Regions from separate parts of the Homo sapiens genome. Here region 2 is linked to region 1. A link means that fine-mapping ties the variant in region 1 to the expression of a gene that starts in the linked region. Tissue or cell type: whole blood. Region 1 holds a variant in brackets; the other region holds the start of a gene. All regions are shown on one strand. Distances are from middle to middle.

The links. PIP is the estimated chance that this variant, and not a neighbour inherited with it, causes the effect.
Region 2: ESPN starts here. The variant in region 1 is fine-mapped to the expression of ESPN in whole blood (TOPMed, PIP 0.94).

Annotation. Positions count from the first base shown.
Region 1 is chr1:6,381,947-6,389,472 of GRCh38, forward strand. The region is part of intron 1 of ACOT7 (acyl-CoA thioesterase 7); the gene reads right to left. Among named protein-coding and RNA genes, the nearest start is that of ACOT7, 8.1 kb to the right of the region's middle. RefSeq lists an enhancer at 3,819-4,804. The variant C/T (reference allele first, on the strand shown) is at 4,351.
Region 2 is chr1:6,421,363-6,428,888 of GRCh38, forward strand. ESPN (espin) reads left to right here and starts at 3,414. Exons shown (of 13, transcript NM_031475.3): 1 at 3,414-3,887; 2 at 6,864-7,057. The coding sequence starts at 3,594. RefSeq lists enhancers at 2,129-2,743, 2,744-3,357, 7,196-7,315 and silencers at 3,354-3,513, 3,544-3,593.

The DNA.
Region 1 (7,526 bases):
ACACGGTGAAACCCCATCTCTACTAAAAATACAAAAAAAAAATTAGCTGGGCGTGATGGTGGGCGCCTGTAGTCCCAGCTACTCAGGAGGCTGAGGCAGGAGAATGGCATGAACCCGGGAGGCGGAGCTTGCAGTGAGCCAAGATTGCGCCACTGCACTCCAGCCTGGGCGAAAGTGCAAGACTTGGCCGGGCGCGGTGGCTCACGCGTGTAATCCCAACACTTTGGGAGGCCGAGGCAGGCGGATCACGAGGTCAAGACCATTCTAGCCAACATGGGGAAACCCCGTCTCTACTAAAAATACAAAAATTAGCTGGGCGTGGTGGCGGGCACCTGTAGTCCCAGCTACGCGGGGGGCTGAGGCAGAAGAATCGCTTGAATCCGGGAGGCGGAGCTTGCAGTGAGCCGAGATTGTGCCACCGCACTCCAGCCTGGGCGACAGAGCGAGACTCTGTCTCAAAAACAAAAAACAAAACAAAAAAACTGAGCTGGACATTTAAAAATGATTAAAATGAGCCTGGGAAACATAGTGAGACGTAGTGGGTGACAGAGCAAGAAAATATGGCTACAAATACGTATATGGTAGCCAGGCGCTGTGACTCACACCTGTAATCCCAGCACTTTAGGAGGCAGACGGAGATGGGCAGATCCCTTGAGCTCAGGAGTTTGGGACCAGCCTGGCCAACATGGCGAAATCCTGTCTCTACAAAAACTACAAAAATTACCCAGGTATGGTAGCACATGCCTGTGGTCCCAGCTACTCGGGTGGCTGAGGCAGGAGGATCACTTGAGGTAGAGGCTCAGTGACCGAGACTGCACCACCACATGCGCCCCAGAAGACAGAGTAACACCCTGTCTCAATTTAAAAAACAAAACAAAACCTGCCATCTTAACCATATACATATACACATATCATTAAGATGGCAGTTTTTTTGTTTTTTTTTTGTTTTTGGACAGAGTTTCGCTCTTGTCACCCAGGTTGGAGTGCAATGTCACGATCTTGGATCACTGCAACCTCCGCCTCCCAGGTTCAAGTGATTCTCCTGCCTCAGTTTCCCAAGTAGCTGGGACTACAGGCGTGGGCTACCACGCCCAGCTATTTTTCGTATTTGTAGTAGAGACGGGGTTTCACCATGTTGGCCAGGCTGGTCTCCAACTCCTGACCTCAGGTGATCCACCCAGCTTGGCCTCCCAAAGTGGTGGGAATACAGGTGTGAGCCACCATGCCCGGCTAAGATGGCAGATTTTTTTTTTTTTTTTGAGACGGAGTCTTGCTCTGTTGCCCAGGCTGGAGTGTAGTGGCGCAATCTCAGCTCACTGCAAGCTCCGCCTCCCGGGTTCATGCCATTCTCCTGCCTCAGCCTCCCAAGTAGCTGAGACTACAGGCGCCCACCATGACGCCTGGCTAATTTTTTGTATTTTTAGTAGAGACGGGGTTTCACCTTGTTAGCCAGGATGGTCTCGATCTCCTGACCTCGTGATCCATCCGCCTCAGCCTCCCAAAGTTCTGGGATTACAGGCGTGAGTCACCGCGCCCGGCCTGATGGCAGATTTTTTTAACGGTAAATTATATATTATGTGTATTTTAACACAGTTTTTTTTTTTTTGAGAGACAAGAGTCTTGATCTGTTGTCCAGGCTGGATTGCAGTGGTGCAATAAGCTCACTACAGCCTCAACTTCCTGGGTTCAAGCAATCTTCCTGCCTCAATCTCCTGAGTGGTTGAGACTACAGGCACACCCCACCTACCCTGCATCTGGCTAATTTTTTTTTCTTTTGAGACGGAGTCTTGCTCCGTGGCCCAGGCTGGAGTGCAGTGGCACGATCTTGGCTCACTGTAAGCTCCGCCTCCCGGGTTCAAGCCATTCTCCTGCCTCAGCATCCCAAGTAGCTGGGACTACAGGCGCCCGCCACCACACTCGGCTAATTTTTTGTATTTTTGGTAAAGATGGGGTTTCCCTGTGTTAGCTAGAATGGTCTCGATCCCCTGACCTCGTGATCCGCCCGCCTCGGCCTCCCAAAGTGCTGGGATTACAGGTGTGAGCCACCACGCCCAGCCAACATCTGGCTAATTTTTTAATCTTTAATAGAGATCAGATCTTGCTATGTTGCCCAGGCTGACAACTTTTTTGAATTGGAAAATTTTCTTAATTAAAAAATTTTATCTGAGAAGGGACTTGCATCTAGAATATATAAAGAGCTCTCATCACTCAACAACAAAAAGACAATTACACCAATTGGAAAATACAGGAAAGACCTGACTAGACAGCTCTCTAAAAATACACAGTGGTCAATAAGCACATGAGAAGATGCTCAGTATCATCTTCTCTCATTAGGGAAATGTAGATCAAAGCCACAGTGAGATACCACTGCACATCTACTAGCATGGCTAGAATTCAAAAGATGGATAATAACAAGTGCTGACAAGGATATGGGGAAATTGAATCCTTTTTACACTGCTGGTGGGAATGTGAAATGGTGCAGCCACTTTGGAAACAGTCTGGTAATTCCTCAAGAGAATAACCACAAAATTACCATATGACCCAAAAATTATATTCCTAGGCGAGCTGTTTTTACTCATGCTTTTAATAACAAACATGGGTGTCTCTTTCAACCCCACTTCTCCAACTCTCCGACACTAGGTGGGTGTCCTACAATTCAAGTAAAGTCTGGCACTACCTTCTGCGGTATAGGAAGGTAAGGTTGAAAGCGCTAACCCGCTAATCCTCCCTTGGCCTTTCTGGAGACCAGCTCCCATCCTGAAGCTATATCTAGGGCCCCCAGCCACCAGTTCTCTCATTAGCATACTAGACACTCTTAGGACTACAAAGGTCCCAAGGGCTTGGGGAGCTCCATGTCAGGAGAACAAAAAATCCTCCTACCACCCCTTTCAAAATTGATGGAGGTCATGATCCCACAGCTCTGTGAACATAAAACTGAAATCTACTAGCTTGTACACATTAGTGAATGAATTGTATGGCATGTGAACTATAACCCAATAAAGCTGGCACAAAGGGGGAGGTATGTATGCCCACTCAACAGAGTTTCTGTAAAGTTTAGGAGAAATAAAGTATGCAAAAGCCATCTGTAAGCAGCTCAACACTGCACTGTTAGGATCAGCCAATCGTGCAGGAACAGCTCCCTCTGGCCCTGCACCAACCTTCTGGTCTAAAATCACAGCTCAACATCCAGCCTAGGGACAAAGCAGGGCACGGATGCCAGCTGCCAGCTGTGAGCCAGCACAGCTGCTGGCTTGCAGGAGCCTTGATCTGCAGAGGCCCAGATTCCCACAGCCCAGGGTTGCCAGGTCACCTCCTCCAACAAAGCCCGGGTGTTCCGCTCGTCCCTAGGGGAAGAACATGCCAGGTCTCCACTGAGGGTGGCCACTTAAGTGGGCACTTTCAATCCAGCAAAACACACAGCTCATCCAACACCCGACCCTACTACCCTCCCCAAAACTCCTCCAAGTTATGCGGCCCAAGGCCCTGGCTGCCCAGTCGGCGTCGCAAGTGAGACACCATGGGCACAAAATATTCCCAGTCATCCTACCTTCCAGTAATGCAGGCTCCACAGGGTGGGAGATCAGCCCTGGGCCCAACCACCTGGACGGGAGCGCAGCACCCTCGCCGGGGCCCCACACATCCCTGGCCAGCCACCAGCCTCCTGGAAGATGCCTGCCTCCCAAACTCACAGAGCCGGAGAGCCCTGGCAAGCAGCTTCATCCTGCGGTAAGTGGGCAAACTGTTTACCCAGTGACAAGTATGATGCCCAGCAGAGCCCAAGCCTGTGTCTGCCTGGCCGGCTCAGCAGTGAGCCGGTGTGATCCCTCCCTGATAGAAAGCACCAGGCTCCTGCTCCTCCTAGGACCGCCCCTCCCCCACCAGCCCCCGGCAAGCCGCCTCCTCGGCTTCCGGAACTGGATCACAGGATGTTCTCTACAAAAGACCAGTGATGCAAGGAATCCATGACTCGGCCTGAACTCACAGACAGGGAAACAGGACAGGGCCACCACCCCTCTGCGGGAGAGGATGAACTGGGTGGGGCCACAAGCAACACTCATAAGGGTTCCCACCTCCAGGACCTTAAACCTCGCACCACTCAGGCTGGCCCTCAGGCAAGTAGAAGAATGAGTTCCACCTGGGCGGAGTTCCACCTGGGCAGAGAGGTCTTGGCTCACAGGCACCGGGAGAGCTGGAAGGCTGCGGGGAAGCCGAGGAAGGCCAACACACCGCACAACACGGCAGGTGCCTGGCCCTCCTCTGACAGTGGCCCTCAAGCTCCAGGAGGGCCGAGGAAAATGCAGATTCCTGGGCCTACCCCTCCCTGACCTTCCCCGCCCCTGGAGTTAGAGG[C/T]AGTAGCTCTGGGGTGGAGGCTCAGGAGCCTGGTTTTCTTTTTATTCTTCATTGTGGTAAACATCAAATGCTTACAAGAGTAGAGGGAGGAGGGAGTGAACCCCTATGTCCCCATCAAGCAGCCCCAAAACAGTCAGCTCAGGGCACCTCTGGTCTCTGCTCCCACCTGCTCCCCATGCCAGGTTATTCTGCAGCAAATCCCGGATTTCCCAGTACGACATCGTAAATATGTCTGCATTTCCTCTCAAAGATAAAAGCTCCTTGTGAAAAACCTAAAGGAGGGGTATGGTGACTCATGCCCACAATTCCAGCACTTTGGGAGGCCGAGGTGGGAAGATCACTTGAGCCCAGGAGTTCAAGACCTGCCTCGGCAACAAAGTGAGATCATGTCTCTACAAAAAATCTTTTTAACATTAGCCAGGCACAGAGGCGTGCACTCGTAGTCCCAGCTACTCGAGAGGCTGAGGTGGGAGAATCCCTTGAGCCCAGAAGGTTGGGGCTGCAGAGAACCATGATTGCACCACTGCACCACTTAGTTGCCTGGCCAACTAAGCGAGACCCTGTCTCAAATAAAAATAAAAACCACAAAACAAAGATCTCATCTAAAATATCATCCAAATTCCTAATATCATTAAATAGCAAGTGACTTCACGTTTCTGTCCTAAATGAATTGAAATCTGCATTTGTGAACTTCATTCACAAGATCCCAAGTCTCTGTGGCCTGGTGAAGAGAAACTGCAGTGTGCAGGGAACAGGGTAATACAGGGCTACGGGGACACAGGAGCGAGGCCCAGCACTGAGCTCGATCCGGTTCCATCGACACGAAATTCTAGAAGAGGCACAGCGAGTGAGTGAAAGCAGATCTTTTTGCCAGGGGCCAACAGTAGGGGAATTTTGGGAGTTTGGAAATATTCGACATCACAACTGGGCCCGCCACTACTCAGTGTGCACACTCATCAAAACTCAGCAAACTGTACGTTTCAAATATTCTTGTGTATGCATTCTAAATCTATCTCAATAAAGCTGGTTTAAAAAAGCAAACTACAAAACAATTATCCTACCTTAAAAAAAAAAGCAGTGATTCCTTAAAATCATTATCAAGGGACTATTCAAGTTTCCCCATTATCTCCTCAATCTTCATCTTGTTGACTCTCTGCTGAAGTACTGTTCACATGCAGAAAACCCATATTTGTAACAGACTTCCCCAGTTATTCCCATGCAGGGGTCCAAGGATGGGGAGGCACATCCTTGATCCCCCTCCCCAGGAGGGCTCTGAGAGTGAGAGGCCAAGGGGTGGGATGGCAAGACAGCCTATGGGGTCACCCCCTGGTGCAGGCTACACAGGCCAGGTGGGTCACACAGGAGAAAGCCACTTCTGGTCTGACCAGAACTGGGGAGCCAGCTAGCTGCAGGTGCCAATTCCAGGGCAATGCCAGGCTAAGTGGCCCACTTACAGCGTGAGGTTGGACAGTGGGTAGACAAAGGCCTCCCCACGCACAGGCTCTCTGGGTTACAAAGACTGCATCTTCACCCAGGGTCCACACATCCCAGCAGCAAGAGAGCCAGCACTGTAAATCATTTTGCGGAATGCTCCAGAATACAAGCTCTGAGTGTGGCTTCTGTAAATCAGGTTCTTTGTTTTTTTTTTTTTCTTTTTTTTTGAGACGGAGTTTTGCTCTTGTTGCTCAGGCTGGAGTGCAATGGCACAATCTCGGCTCACTGCAACCTCCGCCTCCCAGGTTCAAGCGATTCTCCTGCCTCAGCTTCCCAAGTAACTGGGATTACAGGCACCCGCCACTACGCCCAGCTAACTTTTTTTTCTTTTTTTTTGAGACCAAGTCTCACTCTGTCGCCCAGGCTGGAGTGCAGTGGCGGGATCTCAGCTCACTGCAAGCTCCGCCTCCCGGGTTCATGCCACTCTCCTGCCTGCAGCCTCCCCAGCAGCTGGGACTACAGGCGCACACCGCCACGCCCGCCTAATTTTTTGTATTTTTAGTAGAGATGGGGTTTCACTGTGTTAGCCAGAATGGTCTCCATCTCCTGACCTCGTGATCCGCCCACCTGGGCCTCCCAAAGTGCTGGGATTACAGGCGTGAGCCACAGCGCCTGGCCAGGTTCTTTCTTTTCATTAATTCCATTATAAAACCAAAGACAGAGCCCGGCCTGGTGCAGTGGCTCACACCTGTAATTCCAGCACTTTGGGAGGCCGAGGCGGGCAGATCACTTAAGGTCAGGAGTTCGAGACCAGCCTGGCAAACACAGTGAAACCCCGTCTCTACTAAAAATACAAAAATTAGCCGAGTGTGGTGGTGGGTGCCTGTAGTCCCAGCTACTCGGGAAGCTGAGGAGAGGAGAATTGCTTGAACTGGGGAGGCAGAGGCTGCAGTGAGCCAAGATCCTGTCACTGCACTCCAGCCTGGGTGACAGAGTGAGACTCTCTTAAAAAAAAAAAAAAAAAAAGGCCGGGTGCGGTGGCTCACGCCCGTAATCCCAGCACTTTGGGAGGCCAAGGTGGGAGGACCACAGGGTCAGGAGATCGAGACCATCCTGGCTAACACAGTGAAACCCCATCTCTAATAAAAATACAAAAAAAAATTAGCCGGGTGTGGTGGCGGATGCCTGTAGTCCCAGCTACTCAGGAGGCTGAGGCAGGAGAATGGCGTGAACCCGGGAGGCGGAGCTTGCAGTGAGCCGAGATCGCGCCACTGCACTCCAGCCTGGGCAACAGAGTGAGACTCCGTCTCAAGAAAAAAAAAAAAAAAAGACAAAGGTAGAGCCCCTCTTTGTCTTTTCCCTTGGGGGAAATAATTCTAACCCCATAACATACTGAAACTCATAGCCACTCAGCTGCTGTTTATTGACCTGTCAACTAGACCTCAGACACTATTCTAGGCATTCATGGTACCACATGGTACAACACAATTCCTGATCTCAGGAAACTTCCTGGTAGATCTGCATCTAAGAGCATGGCAAGCAAAGAAAACACAAAAAAACCTTGTAGATTTCACACATCTACCTATAAATAAAGCATGCCAAGTTATCTGCCTGCTGGGTGGTGTCCATGCCAAGGTCCCCCTCCATCAGCATGGTTATTCCAGAGCTGGCTACAGTCCCCAGAAAGCCTTGGAGCTTCCTTTAGGAACACCCTGCCCCCCACAGACCTACTAGTAAATTGA
Region 2 (7,526 bases), 39 kb after region 1:
ATTGTTCTTTAAGAGCTCAAAAAACTCTGTGGATCTTTTCCCTCTCATCCCCAGGCCAAGCGACTTAGCTTGGCTGACTCAGGTCTGCACCCACAAGTCCGCCTGCAGCATCTGCATCTTGGGGAGGGACTGACCCTAGCTCCTGGGAGAAAAAGGCTGAAGGAGGAGGCTCCCCTTAGAACATCCCCCTCCAGGTTTGCGGACCACCATTTGAAGACTGAATGGCAGGGGAGCAAACACCATTTCCATTGCCAGTTACCCCCAGTTAAAAATATTTCTTCCTCTACTCTCCCATTGGGTAAAGGACTTTAACCAAGTAACCCACAGTTCTCTTCAACTCAAGGATTTTCAGGTTTTGCTGGTTACTTGGAAGGAGTGGTCTGGAATCAGAGGAACGTTAAAGACAGCTAGGTGGGCAAATGTCGGGTGCAGGCTTTAGGGGAACTGGGACCACCTAGGATACAGTAAGGATACACTCCACCCCTGGTCCCTATTCTTGGGAAGTGCCCTGGCCCTTGGGTTGAGGAGAAACCTGGGGTGGGCTGGGGTGAGCCCAGCAGAGGGGTGAGAGAAGCCCTCCTGGGGAGAGAATCCCTAAGCTGATAGCTGGAGGGTGGGAGACTCTAGGGGTGCTGTGGGCAGAAGGAACCTTGGGTGGAGAGGAAAGAAGAGCCCAGAAGGCTCAGCCAGGGAGTGAAAGCTTTGCCACTTCCCATCTGTGTCATCTCAGGCAAAATGCTTTAAAAAAACAAAACAAGGCTGGGCGTGGTGGCTCATGCCTGTAATCTCAGCACTTTGAGAGACCAAGGTGGGCAGATTACTTGAGGTCAGGAATTCGAGACCAGCCTGGCCAACATGATGAAACCCCATCTCTACTAAAAATACAAAAAATAAAAAAATTAGCTAGGCATGGTGGCGGGCAGACACCTGTAATCTCAGCTACTTGGGAGGCTGAGGCAAGAGAATCACTTGAACCTGGGAGGCAGAAGTTGCAGTGAGCCTAGATTATGCCATTGCAATCCAGCCTGGGTGACAAGAGTGAAACTCCATCTCAAAAAACAAACAAACAGGCCGGGCACAGTGGCTCACGCCTGTAATCCTAGCACTTCGGGAGGCCAAGGTGGGCAGATCACGAGGTCAGGAGATCGAGACCATCCTGGCTAACACAATGAAACCCCGTCTCTACTAAAAATACAAAAAATTAGCTGGGCGTGGTGGCAGGCACCTGTAGTCCCAGCTACTCGGGAGGCTGAGGCAGAAAAATGGCGTGAGCCTGGGAGGCGGAGCTTGCAGTGAGCTGAGATTGTGCCACTGCACTCCAGCCTGGGCGACAGAGCAAGACTTGTCTCAAAAAAAAAAAAAAGAAAAAAAGAAAAAAAACCCTCCCTATCTCTCCATGCCTCATTATCCCCGACTGTGAACTGGGAACAATAGTTGTACCTCTCTCATAGCACCTCTGGATTAAATATCCATGTGAAGCATGGTGAGCACTTGGTGGGTGGTACAGATTTCATAAAAGTGCTACTGCTGCCGTGAGCTCCCTAGGGCTGCTGGGGAGGACCCAATTGGCCCGGTGGACATGGGAGAGCCCGGAGAGGACAGAAGCCTGGCAGGAAGGGCCTGGCTCACAGCCTGAGTTTGAGTCATGTCCCGAAAGGAGTCTGAGAGGTTGGTCAGCAGGGGTGGGTGCTCACATGTGGCACTAATGGAGATGTCATTAACAACAGTGGCAGGGGCTCAGGGGCATCTGCTCAGCCCACTGGAATAGCAATAAAGCATCACCTAGCCCTGGCCCACAAAATCACAAAACCATGTGCTAGATGAGCTCGTCCATGACCAAGGTGGCCACCTTAGGAGTGGAGAACACAAATTGCAGGGCCTTTTGGAATGGAGGAGGCCCAGGGGAGGGGTGCCCAAGACAAGCCATTTTAGCACCTCCTCCCAACAGTACCCCTGCCACTTGCTGGCCTCACGGCACACCTGCCTCTGGGCACCCAGAGGAGGGCAGCGCCAGCCGCAGTGAGCCTGTTGCTTTGGCCACCAGCTCCAGCAGCGAGGCTGCGAGGAAATGACTCCTCCTTCCTTTTGTCTGCAAACCACTGGGCAAGCGTCCCAGATTCCAGCGGCCACAGGTCCCATGGAGAGAGTGAGGGCGATCTGGCCTGGTGGAAGTCGTTGGAAACCCACCTGGCTAGGCACAGCCCAGCAGCTCCAGTTACCTGGGCACCTGGGAGCGCGGGAGGCCATCACGCAGGTCGCCACTAGGTGGCAGGCCCAGGGAAAGGACCGGAGGCAGCTGCCGAGTTTAGCACTATGAGTTTAGCACTATGACTCCCACTGTTCCTGGAAGGGGCTTCCTTCATTCTACAGCATTTCCAGTGCTGACTGTGCCAGGCTGGGGCTGGGGCGGAGTGAAACCTTCAGCCCGGGGTGGGGCCAAGCCCCCACGGGACTCCAGAGGGGGTGGGTGTTGGGACAGGAAGGGCACAGGGTGCTTCAAGATCGCTGATAGGCCGCCTGCACTCCCACAGCCATGTAGCTCCCACCTTCTGTCAGCTTTTCCTCGCGTCCTTTGGGCACTAGCCGCTCCCACGGCTGGTGTTCAGTGGAGCCTGCAGGGTGGCTTGGCACACATTCGCTCTCCTGCCCGCGCCCTCTGGCACTTTCCTGAGCCCCTGCAGGGGTCTCAGCCCCCTCTCTCTGGATGCCGGCGCTCCCGCGTCTCCCCACAAGCCCTAACCTCCCACCCATCCCTGCCTTCTGTGTGGCTGGAAGCCCCTCCACACCGACAGCGGCTGCGGGCGGCCTGAGGCCATGGCGTTCCCAGCGCACTAGTGGTTCCCGTCCTGCCTTCCTGCCCTCCCCGCTGGAACCTCTGGGGGCAGTTCTCGGATCTGGAGGGACCCTGGAAGGCAGGGCTCTTTGCAATCTCCGGGGATTTCGACCCAGAGCCCTTCAGGGACGTGGCAGGGCTGCTCCTGCCTCAGGGCCGTTGTCCTCGTGCTCCTCACCCCGCCTGGAATACCCTTCTCGCCGCTCAAACCCAGCCCCACGGCACCTCCTCAGAGACCTTTCCCTGTCCGCCCACGCGGTCCCGACAATCACTCCCCATCACCTCTGGAATTGCGTCGCCGGCGCCTGGAACCGCAGTTAGCGGGCACTGGGCAGATGAATGAATTTGTCTGTGCCTGGACGGCTCTCCAATTCGAACCCAGTTTTGCTGCCCTCTGGGGTCTCAACTGTTACGTGAGGCAAATTAGGAGAGAAGCCCCTGGGCACCTTGCCCCAGTCGCACGAGTGTCCCCGCGTCGCGGCGGGGGCGGGCGGGGAACTCGGGCGGAGGCTGCGGGGCGGGGCGGGGCGGGGTGGGGGCGGGCCCGAGTCTTAAGCCGGCGTCCGCGGGCTCCGGCCCCAGAGCGCGGCGGAGCGGAGCGCCAGGCAGCGCGGAGCGGAGGCCAGGCCCACAGCCGCTCCGCCTCCCGGCCCGCAGATCCCCGACGGCCGCACCGCGGGCTCCTCTGGCCCGCAAGAACACGTGCATGGCGTCCTGGGGAAGGCGCTGAGTGCGGAGTCGCGGCGCCGCACGCGGCACCATGGCCCTGGAGCAGGCGCTGCAGGCGGCGCGGCAGGGCGAGCTGGACGTGCTGAGGTCGCTGCACGCCGCAGGCCTCCTGGGGCCCTCGCTGCGCGACCCGCTGGACGCGCTGCCCGTGCACCACGCGGCCCGCGCTGGGAAGCTGCACTGTCTGCGCTTCCTGGTGGAGGAAGCCGCCCTCCCCGCCGCGGCCCGCGCCCGCAACGGCGCCACACCGGCCCACGACGCCTCCGCCACCGGCCACCTCGCCTGCCTGCAGTGGCTGCTGTCGCAGGGCGGCTGCAGAGTGCAGGTGGGTCCGCGCGGTTCGCCAGGGGCACTGAGGCTTCCTCCTCAGGACAGAGTCCTGGCCCAGAGTCCCCCGGGGCTCAAGGATGGGTGGGGTTTGGCACCTCCTGGCCCAGCTGAACCCTGCACGGAGCTCCTTCCAGAGGCCCTCAAGTGAATGGGCTCCCTGGCTTGCCAGTACTGGGGCAGATGCCCTGGCGAGCCTGGGTGCTCCCTGGAAGCGCACCTGGGTGATGGGAGCCAGAAGGGAGGGGCCTCCGTGGGGCTTGTGGTTACTAGTGTGTACCGGGAGAAGCAAAGCACTGATCCTGTAGTCCTGGAAGTGGGTGGGACGTGAGGCCTGGGCAGCAGAGTCAGACGCCCGTGTCCTCCAGGACCGGATCTGAAAGGAGGCTGGGCAAAGTCCCACAGCCCACCCGAGGCTGAGATTCAGGTGTCCCAGCCAGGGTGTGGGGGAAGGGTGATGAGCCGTGGTAAATGGGGGTCTCCCCATAACCCAGGCTGACCCCAGGACATCAGTGCTGTCAAGCTGTCAGCTGCTTCTCCAACCCAGGCTGATTCTTGCTGCCTCCAGACCCCACCTGGTCACTCTGAGCAGTGACCTCCAAGGGGAGTCCTGGCTGCTGAGAAGCAGGTAGCCAGGCAGCGGTGGGACAGTTCCAGGCACAGGGAACAAGAAGTGCAGAGCCCTGAGGCATGCACGCTCTTGTCCTGTCGGAGGGCCAGCCTCAGGCATCATGTTCAGAGTGGGTGAGGAAGGGAAAAGCTGCCAGGGCCAGGCCAGAGAGTATCATAGGCCGAGGTTAGGGATTTGGATGAAATTCTGGGTGTGGGGGCAGCCATGGGAGGGAGGAACCACAACCGATTTCCACTTAGACCACTGGGTGACCTGGAGATGGAAGGGGAGGAGTCAGGGTAACTCTAAACTGGCTTACTATGCCCCAAAGATGGCCAGGCCAACCCCACCTTCTGCCTTCAGATAGCAAGCCCCTCTTCCCACCCTTCCTGGGAGATGGCCCACCTGCTATCTCTCAGTGGGCCCTGTTACCAGGGCTTCCTGGCCAAGTGGCCCATGCCCACTCTTTTGGGCGGTGGCATGCCTCCCAGATCCAGTGTCCAGCCCTGGCCAGAAGCCTCTCTGGCCAGTGCAGAGGAGCTGGGAGAAGCAGGTGGCCTTGGGCCCAGCTTATCGTCTCCTGCCCTCTGGGCTGGGCAGGCTTGGGTGTGGGGGGAGAAAGTGTGGGGGGGATGACCTGGATCCTTGGGCTTGCCCAGCCCAGAGAGATAAGCTGCTTTAGGGTGTGGTCCACCACGCACGAGGCTCCTGGGGCCTGGACACCTGGACAGCCTGGACAGGCACAGGCCAGAGCCCACAGGCCTGTGGCCCTCTCCTTACAGTTTCCACCACTTAGAGGCCCAGAGCCAGTGGGACCCCTGGAGCTTCAGACCCACAGTCCCCAAGGCCAATAGGAAGGGAGCGCCTTTCTCAGGAGCTGGGGCTTAGGTCACATTTCACCATGGTTCTGCCTGGGTGCCCGCTAGCCAGCCCCGACCTTTGGGCTCGGAGGGGACAGACTGAACCAGTCTCTGGCCCCCCCACTCCCAGCTTTCTAGCACACAGGAGGGGCCTCGGTGTTGTCCTCAGCTTCCTATGGGCCATCACATTCTCTGCCCCATCTTCCTCCCTGCCTCCTTAGCAGGACAGCCAGACAATTGCCCCCACCCCGCAGGCTGCCTGAAGACCCTACTAGTGGCCCCGGCGCCCCCAGCTCCCTCCGTGCCCTCTTTTCCTTGCATTTCTCACGGGAGCCTCAGAGGTTCTCTTCCCACCGTGATTTGACTTCCTGAGGCCTGGGGTCTCTTGCCAGCTCCTGCCGCCTCTGCCAGTCTGTAACCACAGTGCCCTCTCTCTGGGCAAGGCGGGGCAGAGAGGCTTTACTCCCTGATCCTAGTGAAGTGTGTCCACTGCATCCTGCACCCAGAACCCTGCCCACCCCTCTGTCATCCTATGTGCTTGGTGCTGGGAGGTGGTTCTGTTCCCGAACCAGTACCCACTCTGCCAAGTGCGGCAGCCTCTGTGTCTAGATGTTCCCGGGAATTCTCCTCCCAGCACAGGTCCTGTAAGCACTCCCCTCCAGCCCCTTTCTCAGCAGACACACACAATGGGGTGTGCACTGATGACACATTCAGCAGTTCTGGGCCCAGACCTCTGGCCCCACCTGCTCTGAGGTCCCCGGGGGGAGTTTTGTCCAAGCCCTCCCAGAGGCCACCACTAGCCTGCACCTAGCACCCCTGGCTGACTGCCCCGGACCCGCCCACCAGTACCCAGCAACTTCCACCTCCACAGGGGCGAGAACACAGGCTGCTCCTGTGGCTGGGCACTGGCGAGTCTGCTGGGGGAGGGGCCGGTTTTCTGCACTGAGGTTGGGTTCCTGGAGGCGTACCAAGGTGGAGGTCTCTGTTCCCACGTGACACCGAGGAAGGGTGGAGAGATCGGGGGCAAGTGTTGGATGCAGGGGGTGACCCCCAATCCTGATGCTAGCTTGGTACAGCCCCACAGCCCCCCTTCCTGGCCCTGCTCAGCCCAGTAACCCTGTGTCACTCCTTCAGGCATTCCCTGAGTCCCTGGGAGTCAGGGCTGTGGCCCTGGGCCTGGTGCCAGTCTCCTGCCGTGACAACCAGGTGCCTGTCGTGTAGGCAGCTCGCAGTCAGGACCTGCAGCCTCTGAAAACCCTGCACGGTGCTGCCTATTGGCTACGGTTCAGAGAGGGCCAGTTAGTTGCCCAAGGACAGAAGCAGGACTCAAACCCAGGATCCGCTTGACCCAAAAAAAACATTGCTGAATGAGGCCTGGCCAATCCCTCCAGGGAAGACAGAGAGCACAGAGCTACCTTCCAGGCCTGTGGGAGTCTGGGAGTGGCCCAAGCCAGGGGCGGGGCAGCAACAGGCTTTAGGACTTGAACCAGCTCTCCTCCCACAGGACAAAGACAATTCTGGTGCCACAGTCTTGCATCTGGCTGCCCGCTTCGGCCACCCCGAGGTGGTGAACTGGCTCTTGCATCATGGCGGTGGGGACCCCACCGCGGCCACAGACATGGGCGCCCTGCCTATCCACTACGCTGCCGCCAAAGGAGACTTCCCCTCCCTGAGGCTTCTCGTCGAGCACTACCCTGAGTAAGATCACCCCTCTTAAGGGGTCCTCTGGGTGGGCTGGGCCAGGGCTTTGGGGGATGCCTGGGATTTTCCACGCCTCTCTGGCACTCCAGGGCAATGATCCCTCCAGTGGCCATCCTGGGGCCAGAGGGCCAGGCCAGAGAAATGGCTCCCACTCAACATGAAATTTTCCCCTCCTGGAAAACCCCTTCTGGGGCTGCCCCCAGAGCCCTGCAAGCAGGTGCTCCCAGCATCCTCAGCTGCCCGGCCGCACACAGCTGGACCTGGGAGGCTGGGCACACAGGCCAAGGTCACCTGTTCCCCTTGGGCTGCTTCTGCCGCAGGGGCTCTCTCTGGCTCAGGCTGTGCTCATTTGCAAGACTGTTCAGGATGGAGTCGGGGGCAGCAAGGGCAGGAGCGCCTCCTAGGCCCTAGTCAAACAGGCAGAAAGGGAACCCCATCAGTTACCAAGCAGTTAAGGGAGAAAGGC